Linked DNA regions of Homo sapiens. The protein of the gene in region 3 interacts with the protein of the main gene of each other region in a biochemical or structural test. Each region holds a gene or a part of one and is shown on either strand. Other genes may lie near its edges.

Evidence for each region.
Region 1: the proteins of DAB1 (region 3) and LRP1 form a complex in vitro, tested with the Homo sapiens proteins (2 studies listed by BioGRID).
Region 2: the proteins of DAB1 (region 3) and LRP2 form a complex in vitro, tested with the Homo sapiens proteins (2 studies listed by BioGRID).

Annotation. Positions count from the first base shown.
Region 1 is NC_000012.12:57,208,206-57,214,402, forward strand, and holds the end of LRP1 (prolow-density lipoprotein receptor-related protein 1 preproprotein), read left to right. Parts: coding exon 1-11; intron 12-505; coding exon 506-612; intron 613-877; coding exon 878-994; intron 995-1,486; coding exon 1,487-1,663; intron 1,664-1,823; coding exon 1,824-1,964; intron 1,965-2,101; coding exon 2,102-2,275; intron 2,276-2,512; coding exon 2,513-2,674; intron 2,675-2,970; coding exon 2,971-3,145; intron 3,146-3,281; coding exon 3,282-3,383; intron 3,384-3,544; coding exon 3,545-3,609; intron 3,610-3,721; coding exon 3,722-3,812; intron 3,813-3,911; coding exon 3,912-4,056; intron 4,057-4,209; coding exon 4,210-4,350; 3' UTR 4,351-5,156; downstream 5,157-6,197. UniProt on the Homo sapiens protein: Endocytic receptor involved in endocytosis and in phagocytosis of apoptotic cells. Required for early embryonic development. Involved in cellular lipid homeostasis.
Region 2 is NC_000002.12:169,204,994-169,212,811, reverse strand, and holds part of LRP2 (low-density lipoprotein receptor-related protein 2 precursor), read left to right. Parts: intron 1-604; coding exon 605-844; intron 845-3,170; coding exon 3,171-3,359; intron 3,360-5,561; coding exon 5,562-6,482; intron 6,483-6,623; coding exon 6,624-6,789; intron 6,790-7,174; coding exon 7,175-7,333; intron 7,334-7,818. UniProt on the Homo sapiens protein: Multiligand endocytic receptor. Acts together with CUBN to mediate endocytosis of high-density lipoproteins. Mediates receptor-mediated uptake of polybasic drugs such as aprotinin, aminoglycosides and polymyxin B.
Region 3 is NC_000001.11:57,421,061-57,428,032, reverse strand, and holds the start of DAB1 (disabled homolog 1), read left to right. Parts: upstream 1-3,972; 5' UTR 3,973-4,103; intron 4,104-4,920; exon of another isoform or gene 4,921-5,016; intron 5,017-6,972. UniProt on the Homo sapiens protein: Signaling adapter of the reelin-mediated signaling pathway, which regulates the migration and differentiation of postmitotic neurons during brain development.

The sequences.
Region 1 (6,197 bases), on a different chromosome or scaffold from region 3:
CCACTGAGGGGGTGGGCAAGGGCCCTGGGGGGAGGCCTCTGGGCTGGTGGTAGGAAGCCCCCGGGACAGGGTTGGGGGCTGCACCCACATGCGTGCCCTTCCCTCCCAGGCCAGCCTGAGGACAGAGTCCTTTTCAGTCCCTTGGGTCTTCTCGGCCACCCCTGCCTGGCCCTCCCCATGCTGCCTCTGCCCAGGGCCCCCAGCTGGGCCTGCTTGGGCAGGGATCTGACCTCTGCTTGGCCGGCTGTCATGCACAGCCACACTCTGCCCTGGGGAACAGCTCTGCCAGCGTCGGTGGCTCTGAATGAGCACACTGTGGTTTTAGAGGAAAAGCCCCTCAACCTGCTCAGAAGCAGACTCCCGCCTGCTTCTCTGTAGAAGGACAGAATGCCCTCCTCCCAGTCCCCAGCAGTCCCTGTCCCCAGACCAAGAAGCTGGTGTCCTGCCTGGGCCTGCCTCCTCTGGCCCTCCGGCCTGCCCACACTCACCCCTTCTCCCTCCCCAGGACCATGTACTGGTCAGACTGGGGCAACCACCCCAAGATTGAGACGGCAGCGATGGATGGGACGCTTCGGGAGACACTGGTGCAGGACAACATTCAGTGGCCCACAGGTTTGTGGGGCAGGGTGCAGGAGGGACGGGCATGGAGGGGGCCCGGCTCGCAGAGCCCAGCTGCTGCTGAAGTCACACAAAAGCAAGGGATGGGATGGGGCTTGGACTGGGGCAGGGCAGATTGGCCGTGGAGGCTTTTCCCGAAAGAGGTGACTGTGAGTGGCGTATGAACAGGGTGGAGCTGTCCCGGGCATGGAGGCAGTTCTTTCCACCCCGAGCCTGGGTTGGGGAGGCCAAGCTCTCACAGTGCTCTCTCTCTCCCCAGGCCTGGCCGTGGATTATCACAATGAGCGGCTGTACTGGGCAGACGCCAAGCTTTCAGTCATCGGCAGCATCCGGCTCAATGGCACGGACCCCATTGTGGCTGCTGACAGCAAACGAGGTCAGAGCCCGGCATAAGTCGCAGTCCCCAGCCCTGTCCCCAGCCTTGCCATCCTCCCTACTGAGCCAAAGGCCTCACTTCAATGCCTCCCATCCTTTGTCACTGACCCCCAGCAATGCTGCAGCGCCTTCCAGGCCTCTCCAGCTGGCCTCCCCCTGAACCAGCCCTGCAGGCCTGAGACCCACCCTGACCCTCTGGCCTACTTGTCCATTCATTGGTTGGGTTGCACGGAGGCAGCATAGGTACATTAGGAACGTAGCAAATTGGGGGAGAAGGAATAGAAGTCAGTCATGACTGACCCCAGAAGTCTGGGGGTGATGGGACCTTTTGCCAGTAGTGGCCACAGGAGGAGGAACCGGTGTGGGGAGAGAGAATTTGGTCTGGATGTGTTGAGTTTGAGGTGTCTGGGAACCACAGGTGCCAGTGTCGTGGACAGCATGGCCAGGGCCTGAGTGCCCCTCAGGTCCCCTCTGACTCCACCTCCTCCCCCAGGCCTAAGTCACCCCTTCAGCATCGACGTCTTTGAGGATTACATCTATGGTGTCACCTACATCAATAATCGTGTCTTCAAGATCCATAAGTTTGGCCACAGCCCCTTGGTCAACCTGACAGGGGGCCTGAGCCACGCCTCTGACGTGGTCCTTTACCATCAGCACAAGCAGCCCGAAGGTGGGGGCAGAGGGGAGCCTGGGCTGGGGAAGGGAGGCCTGTGGGCATTGAGTCTCCAAGCTGTGGCCCTGGGACCTGGTGGAGAGGGGGTCACCCTGGGCTCACAGGGCTCAGAGAAGGGTCCTGCTCAGCATCCTCCCCACCCCACCCATACCTGCAGTGACCAACCCATGTGACCGCAAGAAATGCGAGTGGCTCTGCCTGCTGAGCCCCAGTGGGCCTGTCTGCACCTGTCCCAATGGGAAGCGGCTGGACAACGGCACATGCGTGCCTGTGCCCTCTCCAACGCCCCCCCCAGATGGTATGCTTATGCCCTCCCAGTCCCAGCCATGCCTCAGGACCATCTCCTTCCTGTGGCTCCTGACTTCCCCTGACCTTGTTGCCTGTCCCTCTCCTCCTATTCCCCTGGCTCTGCCCCTTGACGGGCCCTTCCTGCAGCTCCCCGGCCTGGAACCTGTAACCTGCAGTGCTTCAACGGTGGCAGCTGTTTCCTCAATGCACGGAGGCAGCCCAAGTGCCGCTGCCAACCCCGCTACACGGGTGACAAGTGTGAACTGGACCAGTGCTGGGAGCACTGTCGCAATGGGGGCACCTGTGCTGCCTCCCCCTCTGGTATGCCCCCTCATCCCGCCACGCCTGCTCCTTGCCCCTGGGCCCCAGCCCCGCCACCCACCACCCCACCTCAGGCAAATGCCCAGCCCCTGCCTCGCCTCCAGCCTCCTTTCCACAACCCAGCATCCAGTCACTCCAGTCTCTGCTTCTCGCCCAGGTCCCCCCAGCCCATTCCTCTGCTATAGGGCCAGGTGGTCTCGAGGGCCACAGTCGCGCTCACACATCCTCTCCCACCAGGCATGCCCACGTGCCGGTGCCCCACGGGCTTCACGGGCCCCAAATGCACCCAGCAGGTGTGTGCGGGCTACTGTGCCAACAACAGCACCTGCACTGTCAACCAGGGCAACCAGCCCCAGTGCCGATGCCTACCCGGCTTCCTGGGCGACCGCTGCCAGTACCGTGAGTGAGCCATCCCTGGGCCCCAGGGCATGCGGGAGGGTGACGGGGGACCCCAGAGCATGGGGTGATGTTCAACCTGTGCCTGGGACCCACAGGGGCAAGTTCAGGAAAGAAGGCCTTATGCAGCTGAGCCAGGCCCAAGCTGCTGGCGCTTCCCCACAAAGGTGCTGGCACACTTCCCCTGAGGCAGTGCACCCCCTGCACCAAGATTATGCAAACAGAAAAGCTCTGTTCAACCTATGGAGAGCCCTCATGAGGGTGGGGCTTGAGGCACTTCTCTCCCTCCCCAACCACAGGGCAGTGCTCTGGCTACTGTGAGAACTTTGGCACATGCCAGATGGCTGCTGATGGCTCCCGACAATGCCGCTGCACTGCCTACTTTGAGGGATCGAGGTGTGAGGTGAACAAGTGCAGCCGCTGTCTCGAAGGGGCCTGTGTGGTCAACAAGCAGAGTGGGGATGTCACCTGCAAGTGAGTGGGGCCCTCCTCCACAGTTCCACCCAGCTGGGCCCCTGCCCTGTCCTAGCCCTGCCCTGCCCCTCCCTTCCTCAGCATCCCAGGCACGCCTCTGCCAGCCCCAGCCCCAGCCTCTGATTCCTTCCTGCAGCTGCACGGATGGCCGGGTGGCCCCCAGCTGTCTGACCTGCGTCGGCCACTGCAGCAATGGCGGCTCCTGTACCATGAACAGCAAAATGATGCCTGAGTGCCAGTGAGTTGGGCCCGGGCTTCACCCAGGCATAGATCATCGCTCCCTTCCCCAGATTTGAGCAGGAGGACCGTCAGGCCTCAGTGCCCACCCCCCGCCCTGTTTTCCTGGCAGCAGTGGCTATGGAGGTTATACCTACTCAGCCGTGTCCCTCCTTTCTGCAGGTGCCCACCCCACATGACAGGGCCCCGGTGTGAGGAGCACGTCTTCAGCCAGCAGCAGCCAGGACGTAGGTGGCAGGGGTTGGGGCAGGCAGGGCCACCGGGACCTAGAGCAGGGGGACCGTGTGCCTCCTGCTTCCCTGAGCCTTGGTGACTCAGTGTCCCACCTCTTCCCTCCAGATATAGCCTCCATCCTAATCCCTCTGCTGTTGCTGCTGCTGCTGGTTCTGGTGGCCGGAGTGGTATTCTGGTATAAGCGGCGAGTCCAAGGGTGAGTCACAGGGATTCTGGAACATTCTGGTCATTATTTTGCCATCCTAGCCTTCCCCCCCAATAATCTCTGTCTCCTTATACTCCTGCCTTTCCCCAGGGCTAAGGGCTTCCAGCACCAACGGATGACCAACGGGGCCATGAACGTGGAGATTGGAAACCCCACCTACAAGATGTACGAAGGCGGAGAGCCTGATGATGTGGGAGGCCTACTGGACGCTGACTTTGCCCTGGACCCTGACAAGGTGGGCTGGGAGGCGGGCAGGGTCGAGTGCCAAGAGGCCGTGGGTGGCCTAACCAAAGGTGTTGGGTTAGGTGAGGGACGGAGGTGGGGGTGGGGTAACCTGGGCTACAGGCCCAGCTCCTGAGCCCTACCTGAACCCTCTGTCACCCTGCAGCCCACCAACTTCACCAACCCCGTGTATGCCACACTCTACATGGGGGGCCATGGCAGTCGCCACTCCCTGGCCAGCACGGACGAGAAGCGAGAACTCCTGGGCCGGGGCCCTGAGGACGAGATAGGGGACCCCTTGGCATAGGGCCCTGCCCCGTCGGACTGCCCCCAGAAAGCCTCCTGCCCCCTGCCAGTGAAGTCCTTCAGTGAGCCCCTCCCCAGCCAGCCCTTCCCTGGCCCCGCCGGATGTATAAATGTAAAAATGAAGGAATTACATTTTATATGTGAGCGAGCAAGCCGGCAAGCGAGCACAGTATTATTTCTCCATCCCCTCCCTGCCTGCTCCTTGGCACCCCCATGCTGCCTTCAGGGAGACAGGCAGGGAGGGCTTGGGGCTGCACCTCCTACCCTCCCACCAGAACGCACCCCACTGGGAGAGCTGGTGGTGCAGCCTTCCCCTCCCTGTATAAGACACTTTGCCAAGGCTCTCCCCTCTCGCCCCATCCCTGCTTGCCCGCTCCCACAGCTTCCTGAGGGCTAATTCTGGGAAGGGAGAGTTCTTTGCTGCCCCTGTCTGGAAGACGTGGCTCTGGGTGAGGTAGGCGGGAAAGGATGGAGTGTTTTAGTTCTTGGGGGAGGCCACCCCAAACCCCAGCCCCAACTCCAGGGGCACCTATGAGATGGCCATGCTCAACCCCCCTCCCAGACAGGCCCTCCCTGTCTCCAGGGCCCCCACCGAGGTTCCCAGGGCTGGAGACTTCCTCTGGTAAACATTCCTCCAGCCTCCCCTCCCCTGGGGACGCCAAGGAGGTGGGCCACACCCAGGAAGGGAAAGCGGGCAGCCCCGTTTTGGGGACGTGAACGTTTTAATAATTTTTGCTGAATTCCTTTACAACTAAATAACACAGATATTGTTATAAATAAAATTGTAAAAAAAAAAAAAAAAAAAAAGGCCAAAAAAAAAAAAAAGAAAGAAAAAAAGCCGCTGGTGTCTGCCTGTGTGTGAGAGACGCTGGGAGCTGGGGCTGCGCTTTCCTGCTTCGGCCACCAGAGGGAGACCTGCCCCGTGCTGGAGGCAGGCTGGCGCGTGGTTTTTAGTGCCCTTCTCCCAGGGCCCTCCCCCTCTCCATCTTACTGTGCCCGGGAAGCGGGTGGCACTGGACTTGACATGGAAGATCTGCTTCTCCTGGCTGTGTGACCTTCAGCCATGACTTCGAGTCTCCAGATTTTGTGTTCCCTCTGGGTCTAGGACACTAACTCAGATCTGTTTCTCTGCATTCACTTCTACCAGACACCACCCCCCTACCCAAAATGATCACCCACAGTGAGAAGCCCCACTATAAGAAGTGAATACACTGAGGCTGCAAAGGTTTTCTCATCCTTCAGGGTCCTCCCATGCGGTTCTCTCTGCCTGAGTCTGCTCTTGAAGCACTGACGTCTCACTTTGTGGAGACTAATGAATCAAATGCGAAGTAAAATGCTGCATTCCAGAGCCAGGTGTCTCCTGCGGTAAAGGAGAGCTGGGAAGACCAGTTTGCCAGGCCCTCTAGGCCCCCAGCAGCTCCAGCTCACCAATCATTTCAGTCATTCCAGGGGGTAACAGGAAAAAACTGTCAATCAAAAGTGTCCAGGTCCATTTCAACCCCTGCCTAGAGGGGGAAACTTCTTGCAGAAAGTTGCACAGTTTACACTGCCCAGGACTAGAGAGGGTTTGAGTCCCAGTACAGCAAATATGAGCTCAGGAAGGGTGGCTGCAAATGTCTGAAGATCCCTTACCCAACTCCCAACCAGGAAGTGCTGCCTTTCATTCCTCCTCCCTCACTGGTTCAACTCCAGGAGATTCCTCCCAGGCTTCCTTCTGCCTTGGGGAAGCTACAAGTCTAGGCACCTGTGGAAAGAGGAGCCCTCCCCTTCCCTTCTTAGCCTTCAGAAGCTCTCTCCAACCTCATCCTCCAAGCCAACTCTGAGATCCTCCCCTGCCTTCAAAAGGGC
Region 2 (7,818 bases), on a different chromosome or scaffold from region 3:
CCTATTTGTAGTCTTTTATCCCTCGCCCCCCTCCCACCCTTCCCCCAAGTCCCCAAAGTCCATTGTATCATTCTTAGGCCTTTGTGTCCTCATAGCTTAGCTCCCACATACCAGTGAGAACATGCGATGTTTGGTTTTCCATTCCTGAGTTACTTCACTTTGAATAATAGTCTCCAGTTTCTTCCAAGTCACTGGGAATGCCATTAATTCCAGGACTATTCTTTAAATCTTATTTCATATATTTAAAAAAAATCACATTATTGATCATGTAACTGAACATATTATTTTAAGTGCCAGTTCATAGGCAAATTATGAGCAGATTTATATACTGACCTCCCTAATCCTCGCATGATTTGTAGAAGAAAACAAGTGAAGCCCCATTCTCTAACTATTATACAATAGTTGGGTTACTGGTTTCATACCTTTAGGTGTTATTGTATAAGCTCTAGTCTCTCCGATGTTGTTTTTAGATTGCTAACTCAGCTACTATATGTTGGTTATTAATTTTTAGAATAAATTATTTGGTGACCCAATTAAAGAAATTTGAGATGGGGTGGCGAGTAGCTAGGATCAAAAGTTACAAATGGATTTTGTTTTCATTTAGATGCCGCCGAATCCTCAAATGGCTGTAGCAACAACATGAATGCCTGTCAGCAGATTTGCCTGCCTGTACCAGGAGGATTGTTTTCCTGCGCCTGTGCCACTGGATTTAAACTCAATCCTGATAATCGGTCCTGCTCTCCATATAACTCTTTCATTGTTGTTTCAATGCTGTCTGCAATCAGAGGCTTTAGCTTGGAATTGTCAGATCATTCAGAAACCATGGTGCCGGTGGCAGGCCAAGGTATGCCAACTCCAATATAAGTAAGATTTGACTTCATCTGGCACCAGGTTGAAATCCCTGGTGCCATGAAAACATTTCTTCATGTGTGGATTCAGTGCATAATGAAGCTTTCCTTTCCCTTTAAATCAACTGGCACAGCCTAAAGTGTTTTTCAAACTTTAGTGTGTCTCAGAATCACCTGGAGGGCTCACGCCAACACAGCTCCAGACCTCGTCCCCAGATTTTTCTGATTTTGTAGTCTAGGGTAGGGCCAGAGAATCTGCACTCCTAATAAGCTCCCAGGGCATGCTGACGGTGCTGGCCCATGGATCACGCTAAGAACCACAGGCCCAGAGCAATATAGAATGTAGGATGGGTTTGCAAGAAGTACTACAGAGTTGGTGTTCCAAAGAACTGTGCCCTATTTCTGATTATTAATGGAGATTTATGGTAGAAGGTATACTACTATTTAATATGGTAATGAAATAGTCCACAAATATGATTTATTAATATATATTTGGTGAATTGAAGCAAAAGAGTTCACAGTGTCAGTCCCTCTTTAGTAATCATATTTTTGCAGCACTTTGTGCTTACATACTGTGAATGTATGAAACGATCACTTGCTTCCTAGATGAGCCAAGGTTTTTAGGTATACCTTAGCACAAGAGGAACTAAGAGTTTTCTAACATCGCTAGGAGAATGTCACAGGCTAAAGAGAGAAATAGAGGGTAGAAAGGAAGGAAAAAAGGATGAAGTCAATGAAGGGGTTGTAGAGATGGTCAGAAAATACAGAAATGCACCTGGAGAAGGGAATCAGAGAGCTTCCAGTCCCACACGTCCTCCTGCCTGATGGTCATGTTCACGTGGACCCATGACTCATCTTTGTTTTTCCATATCTAAAAAGTTATGGATCTAAGTTATCATCTTGTACAGATATGACAAATTCAATAGTTTTTTTCTCCCAGCTTTTCATTAAAAAAATGTTCAAACACAGAAACGTTGAAAGATTTAGGAAATATCCTTATACCCTTTACCAAGATTTAACAGTTGTTAACATTTCTTCACATTTGAGCTCTCAATTTGTATGTGTGTGTGTGTACATGCATATGCATTCACATTCATTTTTTATGAACCTTTTAAAAATAAATTTTAATACCATGCCACTTTACCCCTACATATGTTAGCATACAGTTTCAAAGGGCATTATGAAATATTCATAATCATATTTCTCCAGTTGGCCTCACAATATTTTATATATAGCTGTTTTGTTCCATCCAAGATCTAATCAAGATTCATGCACTGCACTGGGAATATCTCATTAGTTTCTTCCAGTTTGGAGTAGTTGCCTCTAGCTTTTTGCTATGACATTGATGTTTTAAAGAGGCAGACCTGTTGTCTTTGAGAATCCCACACTGAGGATTTGTCTGAATATTTAGTCTGTCTTTCATTTTTTACCCTGCAGTTCTCATGAAATGGAAGTTAGGTCTAATTGCTTGATTAGATCAAGGTTAAATACATTTAGCAATAATACTTTATAGGTTATGCTGTGTTAGTTGATACAGAATCTTATTAGGAAGAACATAATGTCAGCTTGCCCTGCTCTTAGTGGCATTTGAGTTTGATCACTTGGTTAAGGTGGTCACTGCTACACTGCTGCTTTTTAAAGCTGTATTTTTTTTCCTTCTTAATTTTGGTGGAATCTATGCAATCACACTTAGGCCCTGTGAATGTCTTGGCTCCCAAGCACCTTTTACCCATTGGTTTTGGCAGCCATGGATGATCCTTGTTTGAAATGATTATTTAATCGAGGATTGCAAAATGGTGATTTTCTTATTTTAGCATTCCCTTTACATTTGTTAGATAATATTCTTCTATAAAGGAAAGCTCTTCGTGTCTCCCCGGTTTACTTTTTAAATAATTTATTATTATTATGGGCTCAAATTTTTATTTTTTAAATTCAGTGTGTTACAGTCAATTACTGTAATCCTTCTTTTGATGTTTTAGTGGATCCATTTTGGCCAGGGAGAACCTCTTCAAGTGGCGACCTGTATATTTCTGTGTATGCCTTGTTTCTTGGTACAATAAGATGTTTCACACTCACTTCGTACCTTCCCTGCCTAAACCTATAATCAACATTTCTCCCGGGAGCCAGAGCTCCTTATTGTGGGAAAGAGTAGAAACCAAGATGTGGGTCTGCTCACTGCAACTGGGAAAAAAGGGTTTCATTTTGTAATGGGGAGATGCTCAGAGCAGGGGGTTGGGAATGAGGGTTTGAGAGGAAGGGCAGACATTTAAAAGTTCTAATTTCAGTGACAGCATTTTTTAATGATCTTTTCTTAACTTCCAGGACGAAACGCACTGCATGTGGATGTGGATGTGTCCTCTGGCTTTATTTATTGGTGTGATTTTAGCAGCTCAGTGGCATCTGATAATGCGATCCGTAGAATTAAACCAGATGGATCTTCTCTGATGAACATTGTGACACATGGAATAGGAGAAAATGGAGTCCGGGGTATTGCAGTGGATTGGGTAGCAGGTATGTAAGCTATATGGTGATTTTAATATGTTTGCATCTCTGTCATCTTATTTTATGCTAGAAAGTTTAGCCTAACTCCATGTGCTACAGGTTTGTTTTTCTAGACAATTATTAAGACCATTTAAGATACATTGAATCTAGATTAAGCTACGTGTCTATTTGATAAATGATACGGTGTTTCAGTTTACAGATTTATAACAAATTAATCCTTATCATTTTCTTCTGTTATTAACATAATCTGGAGACAAAAGTGGCTAAAATATTAAATTATGTGGATTTGTTTTTTTTACACTTAGATTTGCACCTGATTTCTGCATTAGAAATTTTCTAAATTTTCAAGAGAAAGAGATATAAAAATATAAACTATGGAACAGCATTCATTTGCTTTGAAGCTGAGCAATTTTAGTTGCCAAATTCTTAATTGCTTCCTTTTATTCATATATAAAAATCCCTTAGATCATGAGATATTTTATTAGTAATTTTTTTAAATGCCTGGTCCAGTATTATATTAACTTAGTTGTATTTATTCATGCACATAAGCTTGAATAACCCCTCATTTTTATCACTCATCTGAGTAAAAATACCACTCATAATTAGTGGTATTATATGTTTTGGAATATAATCCAATTCTACATAAAATCAGTATCATTGAATCAAGCTTGGTGAGTAGGCATCACTTAGAAATATTAGCATGTAGGCAGGGCGCAGTGGCTCATGCCTGTAATCCCAGCACTTTAGGAGGCTGAGGCAGGCGGATCACCTGAGGTCAAGAGTTTGAGACCAGCCTGACCAACATGGTGAAACCCCATCTCTACTAAAAACACAAAAATTAACCAGGCATGGTGGCGTACGCCTGTAATCCCAGCTACTCAGGAGCCTGAGGCAGGAGAATCTCTTGAAGCCGGGAGGTGGAGGTTGCAGTGGGCCGAGATTAAGCCACTGCCATCAAGCCTGGGTGACAGACTGAGACTCTGTCTCGAATTAAAAAAAAATTTAAAAAAAGGAAATATAAGCATGTATTATGAAAATCTAAGTACTATAATAAGAGTTTATTGCAAAAAGTAAATATGGAAGTATGGTTAAATAAAGCTTTAATTGGGTTCCTAACTCCCGTTCCTGAATAGAAATTACTATTTCTGAGGGTATAGATAAAGCAGTAGTCAGCAAACTATGGCCCGTGCGTCAAATGCAGCCTGTTGCCTGTTTTTGTAAATAAAGTTTTATTGTAACACAGCTATGCCCATTTATTTGTGTATTGTCTATGGCTGCTTTCATGTTACAGTGGCAGTGTTGAGTACTTGTGAAACCATATGCTCTGCAAAGCCTAAAATATTTATTATGTGGCCCTTTACAGAAAAAGTTTGCCAACCCTGGATTAAAGGATTGGAAATGAGCAAATGCATACATAGCAAGTAGAGTTAGGTAATGAAAAAATGTATCAGTAACATATTTCACATTGGCCTGATTTCTCTAGAGGTGGTTTGAATCAGATATAGGAACAAAATATGTGTGTCTTGGTAGTAGCATTGATAGTTCAACAACAGACTTTCAACTACATGAAATCAATAATTTGTGGTCATTCTCTACTTATTATACTATCTTCATAAAGTTATCTTTTTATTCTAGCATGTACATAAGGCCCAAAGGGAAATGGACTTTTGGTCACTTTTAGAAGGTCCATGGGATGAAAACACCTACATTAGTTAGAAAGACTAAGGAAAAACTTCATGTTAACCTTAAGTTCAAAGACCATTTGATAACATTAATAACAACCTGAGATGCTGCTGGTGCTCCCTCTTTGCTACTTTTATCACATTGGGATGGAAGTTGTGCTATGAAAATGTATATTTAGAGTGTTTCAAGTAGGTATTAAGCATTTAGAGCTTCAGATAGAAAAGGAGGGACATTCTGGAAAATATACCTTTCAGTAGAAAGTGGGTTATGATGTTGCTATGAATTCTAATCTACTTTAGAAGCTGAAGATAGGCACTTTCTCTCTAAATTTGAAGACACAATCTCTATAATTCCTAGGAGTAAGAACTTATTTTTCTAAGCCTAGACTGGGACACTATCATCTTGGAAAAGACAACATATAGTGACCCAGACTTCAACCTTATATATTTTGTTCTGAATTTGTAAAGTTCTCCCTTTTTTTCTTCTTGGTTCTCCATTGATCAGCATGCACTTTCATTTTTCCCATAGGAAATCTTTATTTCACCAATGCCTTTGTTTCTGAAACACTGATAGAAGTTCTGCGGATCAATACTACTTACCGCCGTGTTCTTCTTAAAGTCACAGTGGACATGCCTAGGCATATTGTTGTAGATCCCAAGAACAGATACCTCTTCTGGGCTGACTATGGGCAGAGACCAAAGATTGAGCGTTCTTTCCTTGACTGTACCAATCGAACAGTGCTTGTGTCAGAGGGCATTGTCACACCACGGGGCTTGGCAGTGGACCGAAGTGATGGCTACGTTTATTGGGTTGATGATTCTTTAGATATAATTGCAAGGATTCGTATCAATGGAGAGAACTCTGAAGTGATTCGTTATGGCAGTCGTTACCCAACTCCTTATGGCATCACTGTTTTTGAAAATTCTATCATATGGGTAGATAGGAATTTGAAAAAGATCTTCCAAGCCAGCAAGGAACCAGAGAACACAGAGCCACCCACAGTGATAAGAGACAATATCAACTGGCTAAGAGATGTGACCATCTTTGACAAGCAAGTCCAGCCCCGGTCACCAGCAGAGGTCAACAACAACCCTTGCTTGGAAAACAATGGTGGGTGCTCTCATCTCTGCTTTGCTCTGCCTGGATTGCACACCCCAAAATGTGACTGTGCCTTTGGGACCCTGCAAAGTGATGGCAAGAATTGTGCCATTTCAACAGAAAATTTCCTCATCTTTGCCTTGTCTAATTCCTTGAGAAGCTTACACTTGGACCCTGAAAACCATAGCCCACCTTTCCAAACAATAAATGTGGAAAGAACTGTCATGTCTCTAGACTATGACAGTGTAAGTGATAGAATCTACTTCACACAAAATTTAGCCTCTGGAGTTGGACAGATTTCCTATGCCACCCTGTCTTCAGGGATCCATACTCCAACTGTCATTGCTTCAGGTAAGTGCACTCCAGGTGCTGCTTGTCCTGCAAGTAGACACAATGGGGTCAACACACATGGATGACTGAGTGTTTCTAATGCATATGAGACTCTAATGTCTTTGTGTGTGCTTGTGTGTGTGTCTGCCTGTATGTGTCCAGGTATAGGGACTGCTGATGGCATTGCCTTTGACTGGATTACTAGAAGAATTTATTACAGTGACTACCTCAACCAGATGATTAATTCCATGGCTGAAGATGGGTCTAACCGCACTGTGATAGCCCGCGTTCCAAAACCAAGAGCAATTGTGTTAGATCCCTGCCAAGGGTATGCCATCATCTTCCTTGTTATATTTCTGTCTGCTTATTTCTGGAAAAAATGGGGCCTGAAATTATGTTCATAGATAGCCAATGTGTTATGGGCTTATAAAACTATGGCTACAGATTCAAAAATGAAAGCATATTGAGTGATTTTACGTGGGAAGGAGGGTGCAGCGCATAGCTCCCTTTGATGGCAGAAAGGTTGGCAACATACTAGGAAGTCAACACCCTGACTTACTAGATCTCCTTTGGACAAGTTGTGTAAGTAGAAATGAAGTTTCTTTTGCCATGTTACTGGCAATTTGCAATTAAAGAATATTGTCCTTTTTTTTTTTTTTAAAGGACTATGAGGTTCCCTGTGAATTAATTATTGACTCCTTTTGTATGACTAGGTACCTGTACTGGGCTGACTGGGATACACATGCCAAAATCGAGAGAGCCACATTGGGAGGAAACTTCCGCGTACCCATTGTGAACAGCAGTCTGGTCATGCCCAGTGGGCTGACTCTGGACTATGAAGAGGACCTTCTCTACTGGGTGGATGCTAGTCTGTAGGTGTCTCTGGTTACTCATGTGGGTGTTAAGAAGAGGTTTTTCTTCCATTTCCAAAGAAGAGGGATTTGCATCATGTGATGAAAATATAGCATGCCAGATAGACATTGCCAGAATATAGAATCACAGTTTTAGGAACTATGTTTATATTGGAACTTGGTGAACATACTGTGAAAATTTATCTATATCATGCATTGAATAATTATGAACTAAAAGACATCTAAAGATGCATTGCTAAATATATCTATAATTTCAGCTATAATTATAAATGTATTTTCTCAATTTAGAATTACAAATGAAATTACTCAACTTACATTCTGCAGGCCCTAGGTAACTGCTATAAAATCTGAATGACTTTTAAATGCCAATTGATATTATGTTTTTTTCTGGGCTTTAGCATTCAATGTCTTTTAGAAAATTCTTTTCTTAAAAAAAAAAAAAGAAAATTCTTTTCTTCAGTCTTTGACTTTTTGTCATCTTTTCA
Region 3 (6,972 bases):
CCACGCCCGGCTAAGTTTTGCATTTTTAGTAGAGACGGGGTTTCACCATGTTGGTCAGGCTGGTCTCAAACTCCTGACCTCAGGTGTTCCACCTGTCCCGGCCTCCCAAAGTGCTGAGATTACAGGTGTGAGCCACCATGCCCTGCCCTAAGAGCGTAGATCTTAACTGTTCTTATCACATGCACAAAATTAGTAACTATGTGAAGGTATGGATATGCTAATTAGCTTAATTGTTCTAATTATTTTACAATGTATATGTATATCAAAACATCATCTTGTACATCTTAAATATATACAATATTGAGGCATTATTTGTCAATTATACTTCAATAAAGCTACAGAAAAAGTAAAATGCCCATAGTTTACAGCATAAAATTTTATTACTCTCTGGCTAATTGAAACAATTGTAGGAATAAACAGAATTAAATAAAATATAATACACAAAATGGGCTTCTTTGCTTCCCTTTCTTTGGAGGAGTAGTAATAGCTAGTAGGACTTACGATTTCTGACATTTGATTTTGATTTCCATGATAGGTCAACCAGCACTTACATAGGCTGCTCCTTTGAGTATCTTGAAAATCATGTGCATAGTTATAAATTATGTAAAGTTCAATAAAACTCCATTTTGCTCATGTGCAGGCTGCTCATGCCTGTGTCTTTTATTAGGTTGACTCCAAGATCCTCAAAGGTAGAATATGTTTCTGATTTATCACCATTATTCCCAATGCCTACCACAGTGCCTGATATACAGAATGGACTCCATAAATGCCTGTCAAATTTAAATGAACTATTTTAGAATTATTCTGGGAAGAGAATCAATGTTTACCAGGTGACTGATTTATTCAGTGCCAGGCATGTCCAATATATTAGGCCGGGCGTGGTGGCTCACGCCTGTAATCCCAGCACTTTGGGAGGCCGAGGCGGGTGGATCATGAGGTCAGGAGATCGAGACCATCCTGGCTAACACAGTGAAACCCCGTCTCTACTAAAAATACAAAAAATTAGCCGGGAGCGGTGGCGGGCTCCTGTAGTCCCAGCTACTTGAGAGGCTGAGGCAGGAGAATGGCGTGAACCCAGGAGGCGGAGCTTGCAGTGAGCCGAGATCGCGCCACTGCACTCCAGCCTGGGCGACAGAGCCAGACGCTGTCTCAAAAAAATATATATATATATATTATCTCATTTAAGGCTCACTGCGATCTCAAGAAGCAAGTGTTATCCACCACCATTGTAGGGTTGAGAATTTTGACGTAGACAGAAGTAACTTGTTAAAGATGAATGAAGCTCATTAAATTCCAAACTCTATACTCTATCCAGTACAATAAGAGTGCCTTCCCCAATGGGCTGCTGTGAAGGTCAAATGAGTTAATATATGGAAAGCATCAGAACTGTGTCTGAAACATAATAAACAATATATACATCTTTGCTGTTCTTATTTTACTGTTTCTCGGGGTAGATGATAAAGAAACGTTCACTGAGATTTTTTTCTTATGCCACACTTAATACAAATGACATTGTTATTTTAAAAGGAACAAAAGAAAAAAACCCCTAATTATTAGGTGACTTATTTCATGACATGTTTAGTACAACAACTTAAAATGTTCCTTTAAGATTTGGTTTAGTTTAACTTGAAAGATCATTGGTGGGTATCTACATGTTATGCCCGGATTTGAGAAAAGCTTTGCTTGTTACCCCTGTTGAATTTCAGGGAAATTTGCCCAGTTTCCGTGGTGGACTTGATTCAACACAGAGCAGAGATAGAGTCTTGTATTTCCATTACTTGGCCAAGTCAGTGTCATTAATTCTCTTCAAAGTCTGTAATCATAATGTCAATAGAAAGCCGAACGAAGTGAAAGGTGGGTGAAGGCGGCAGGTTTTATAAGTAGGGCCTTAAGATGCATGTAGATGGTCTTCATGTTCTAAGCCTATCCTCAAAGCATTGAGAAACTTCAATGTTTTTGGCAGTCAATGAGAATTTAGACCTGTGCCTCCATCATAACAGTTTTTTACCCTCCCTTCCCCTGTTTCGACCATGTCTTCTCAGATTTGTCCCTCTTTCCTCAGTATTGAGTTTAGACTCTTGAGATGTGTCTTCATAGATGAAGAAACTGAAGTTAATCTTAATTGAGTTGCCTGGTAAGCCTGAACTTCCTACACAGTGTAGAAGCATATCTGGTGTCAATTGTCCCCACTTTCTAGAACTTTGGAAAACTTGTAGAGACTTAGGCTAGTTTCTCTGCTCCCCACTCGTAGATTATCTGTCACACCTGGAAGTAGGTAGAAACCGAGTAGTATCAGGGATAGGACCTCCCTCCCACCTTTTTGGAAATTTCATCTGATCAACTCTTCTTGCAAGATTGCATCCTGCTATGACCTTACAAATTGTTCTTGTCTCTATGTAAATTGCTATCTTTTCAGGTGATGCATGACAGCCTCCGTTTGCTCAGGTCTCCATTTGTACGGAAGCTGTTATTATGGAATAAGTTTAATGGGTCGTGAATTTTGTGGAGAAAGGGAGGGTCTCTTGATGACTTTGTATGTACCAGCCCTGGACCTACTGGCTCCACAAGGAGTGCATTAGGCTAAATATTTTTAGCCCATTGACTCTGGAGGTAACAACCCTAAATGCTTCATTAAATTTTCATGGGTGAGTGTCAGAAGCTACGAGAAAAAAAAACACCCCAAAACAGAAAAGCACAAATCCATCACATTATCTTTGTTATTATACAGCTGGAAGACAGGAGTGTAGCCCCAAAAAGAGTAACGGTAAACTTTTTAAGGAAGGGTTGCCTGCCTCTTGCTTTCCTTTTCTGCACCTGGGTCCAACAGGGTGGTTTGTGTGCTGTGCGAATCTACATATTATGCACTTGATTTGATTCACCAGGCTCCTCTCTTCTCCTGCATTTCAGGCCTCTGGAGACAGGTATGCCACACAACAGGAATTTTCTGGAGTTGAATCTAGTCTCAAGGTGGAAGAATTTTCAGAATGACCCAATATTTTCTGCGACTTGGTGTTTCTAGGATCTTTGTGAGCTAGGACCCTAAGCAAGGAGCAACTGACTGTGTACTCGCTGGAGCCGCCTCCCGCACAGCTTCGAATCGGAGGATTGTTTACTCCCAGTCATTCTAAGAGCCGAGTAGGGGAGTCGCGGGGAGTAAGCCGGAGTTAACCGTGGTCTGCGTGCTCTCAGGGGCACGGGTCTCTCCTGAGGACTGACGGAAACTTGACACGTGCCAGCCTTCTCCCTCCCAACTTGCCGAACTTTGCCTGGGAAACCTCAGTCAAAACAGGAGCCGCCGAACCTGCACTGGCGGCTGGGAGCGAGCGCCCCCTCCTGCCAAGGGGCGTGGGGGCAACATGCCCTCGCGGAGACTCCCCTCGTGGTTTCGCCCTTCCTGGCACTCCATATATTTGGGTATGCATATGTTTTCGAGGCTTGGATAAAAGGGTAGATCTTAGAGAAAAATGAGAGAGGCCAGGCGGAGCTGCGTCCAGTGGTGGTGATGGGGGAGAAAACACTGGATACTTTGTGACAACCCCCCTCCCTTACCCTCTCCACGCTGGCGCGGCTGGGGCGGGGACCCCTCGCTCTCGGCTCGTCTCTCCCCCTTCCACGCTGGGATGGAGAGAGAGTGCAGGGGCTCCAGAGGCGCGACTGCAAGCCGCGGCGCCCCCGCTCGCTCGCTCGCTCGCTCGCTCGTTCTTCCACCTCCTCGTCGCCACCGCCACTCGGCTAAGCTCTCGGAGCGCGCTCCGGCTGCGCAGAGAGCGCCCCGGAGGGAGCCGCGAGGCCGGGGCGAGGGGCTCACGGCCCGGCGGCGGCGGCCGGGGAGCTAGCAGGTGAGCGGTGCCGCGGGGCGCCGGGCGGGCGCGGGGGGCGGCGGGGCGGGGGGCCGCGGGAGGAGGCGGGTCCGCGCGGGTGGCGGTCTCCTCCCCCTACTCTGACGCGGGGCCGGTGGCTCCCGGGGAGGATGGACCCAGCTCGGCGCTCGCCCGGGCTTCCCCGGGCTGCAGAGCGCGCCTGAGTGCCGCCGCCCGCCGGGCATGGGGAGCCGCTTCCTGGGCGGCTGCGGCAGCGGAGGAGGATGCTCTGGGCTAGGCGAGGTGAGGCGCGGCGGGGGCGCGCGGCAACCCTTGAGTTCAGCGCCGCAGGTGCCCCGCGAGGACAGGGCGCCGGGGAGCCAGGAGGCTTCGCTGGAGCCCCGGGGCGCGGAGGAGGGCTCCTGGGACGCGCCACTCAGCAGTTTGGCTAGGGGTGCTGGGAGGATGGCGACTGCAGCAGTTTTTCGCCTTCTCCCTCCACTTGCTGGGAGGAAAAGGGCGACTTCTCTTTCTCTGTCCTGCCCCCCATCCCCGCGCCCCTGTCTCCCTACTTCCGACCACGCGCGATCCTGTCTCCAGACTTGTCCACCCCTGACACGCGTCTCTCTCCAAGACCCCCTGCGCCCTCTTTCCTCCTGCGGTCCTGGCTATATCGGACCTCGAGCCTGCCTTCTCCCGCTGTCCTGGGCTCCCGAAACTCCCTCCCTCCCTCGCTGGTGGCCAGACCCTTTTCCTCATTCGGCCGAACCCCGTTCTCACTTCCCTACTCCTCCGTAGCGCTGAGATTCGGCTTCGACCTCTCGAAAAACCGACTCTATCCCAGTAATCCCAGCCCTTTCGCGGGCACCGTGAGAACTGGATCCCGCGTTCCTCGGACCCCGGCCTTTCTTCGGATCCTCTGTGGACTCTGTTCTCTGCCGCTCGTCCCCCTCCATCCACTCCCCAGCACCCCCTCCCCCCACGCCCAGCTAGTCGCCTCCCCAGCCCGCCCCTCTTCCTTCTCTCTGCTCCAGACTCGACGCTCTGACTTGGATGCAGAGAGCTCAGTTTTTTTTTCTACCAAGGAAACTTTAAATCTCTGTGGTTCGGCTCATAAAGCAGGCACACAAGAGGGTGTCAACCGCCGAGAGAACCCAGAGGCAGGGAGTCCGAGATGGGGGGAGGTCGTGTCGCGGCGTCTGAAAGGGGCCACTGGGTGAGTGTACAAAGTAAATTTCAAAACCAGGGTGGCTGCTGCAGCCAGGACCCTGCCTCCGCTGGCTGCGTCCCGAGGAGTATTATTGTGACCCCTGGTGGGAGGGCGCATCTTTTCTCTGCACTTTTTAAGGCGCTTTTTCTTTTCTCTGTTTTTGTTTTTTGGTGGTGCTGGTGGGCCTGATGGGGGGCAGTGGGCACAAGGGATCGCTGCCTGGAGAGGCGGACGCCACTTGGCTGCTCCCAGACCCGCCAGACTGTGTACGTTTCACTCCGTGTGAACTACCCCCAACCCCCAACTGCATCGCACAAATCCTCATTGTTGGGGGTCTGCTGGGGCACTTCCGCTTAGGCTGGGAGAGTCTGAAGGAATGGCGTGGGGGTGGGGAGGCCGGGGGCGCTTGGCTACCGCTCCGCTCTTGGCGGCGGGCGGAGTGGAGAGCGCCGCGACGCGGGCATCTGTGCGCTCCGGTGTGTATGTGTCGCCGAGTCTGGGGTGCGCGCCCGCGTGGGTCGGTGTCTGCGTGTGCGTTTGGATGTCGGCGCACGCCTGTGTTTAGCTCCATTAGAAAGAGGGGCGATGTAGGGCTTGCGGTAGCGAGAGCGCCTTTCTCCGCCTGGGAGCTGGACGGGGGCGAGCCCGGGGGCGAGCCCTCCTGCGAGCTGGATGCTCCAGTGCAGCTCCTAGCCAGCCGGCGGGGACCGGGGCGAGAATCCGCGCCGTCGTTTCTTCCTCCTTCCTGCTCCCTTCCTGCTGGCCGGTTAAATACACTTTAACAGTGTTGATAGTTTTGAATAAAGGCTGTGTGGGGGTTCCACTACACTTTACAACACTTAACGTTTTCAAGTAATCATATCAATTAAATTAAAGGTGGCTTACGTTCAGAACCGCCTAATTATCCAGTTCACGTTGGTACATTTATGTGCCAATTATAGGTCTTTGGGAAATCCATAAAATTACAAACCATCCCCACCCCTTGAATTAGCACCCATTGTTTTTGTGATCTCCGTGATGAGTGATTCTGGATGGCACCGGAACTGCGCAGGCACTAAGATAGATGGGGGTTCGGAGATGTCAGAAGGAGTAGGCACCCCCCCCCGCCACCCCCCCCCCCGCCACCCCCCATCTCTTTCACTCCCTATCCTGACAAGGCTTGGTGACAATTCTGGGAACTGAAAGTGATCAAAGATTTTCTTGATTTCCTATTGAGAAGGGCACCTAATCAAAGCTGTATAAAAGTCAACTTCTAAGCAATCAGAAATTGTCTGCTGATGTCCTTGATTGAAACCCCAGCATTCAAATGGAATATTGAAGAACTCGCAGAAATGTCTTTTGAAGCGCTATTGTTCTTTTCCATACACAAAGGCTCTCTTAAAGGTTTAGGAAGTTCAAAATGCAGTGGTTTGAAAGGACTGACTTTGTAACTATTTGGCAACGCTGGGAGGATCCGCAGGGATGAGAAAAGAGGCCGAAGTGGGAAGTGCAAATATGTTGTGACCATCTTCTTGGGAACGGTGCTGCTATCAAGTAGGAATTCAATTCTACACATCGAGTTGGCAATTAAATCTCTTCCTAAAGCAGATTTAGAAGATGATTTTTAGTAGTTTTTATTTTTTAATGGTTTGCTTGAGGTCTGAATAGGCATATCTGAAACATTTAATCATGTTCATTGTATTCAACGATAAAATCTGAATAAAAATTACTTATTGTTGATGAAGCTCATCTCACAAGCTGTTTCACAGTATGTTTCATTTGCAAGACACACCATTGTGTGAGGCTGCCGGGAAGAGATTGTATCACTTATTGTTCATTTTCTCCTCCCAACCCAGAGAGGAATATTCTTCTTCATTCCCCTTTGCCCTCCAAAGTAATTTTTCTTAAATGGGTGAGTGTTTGGCTTGGTACCTGATAGTACCCATCTAAAAAATTGCATTTGGTAGATTTAGGATGCTTGGA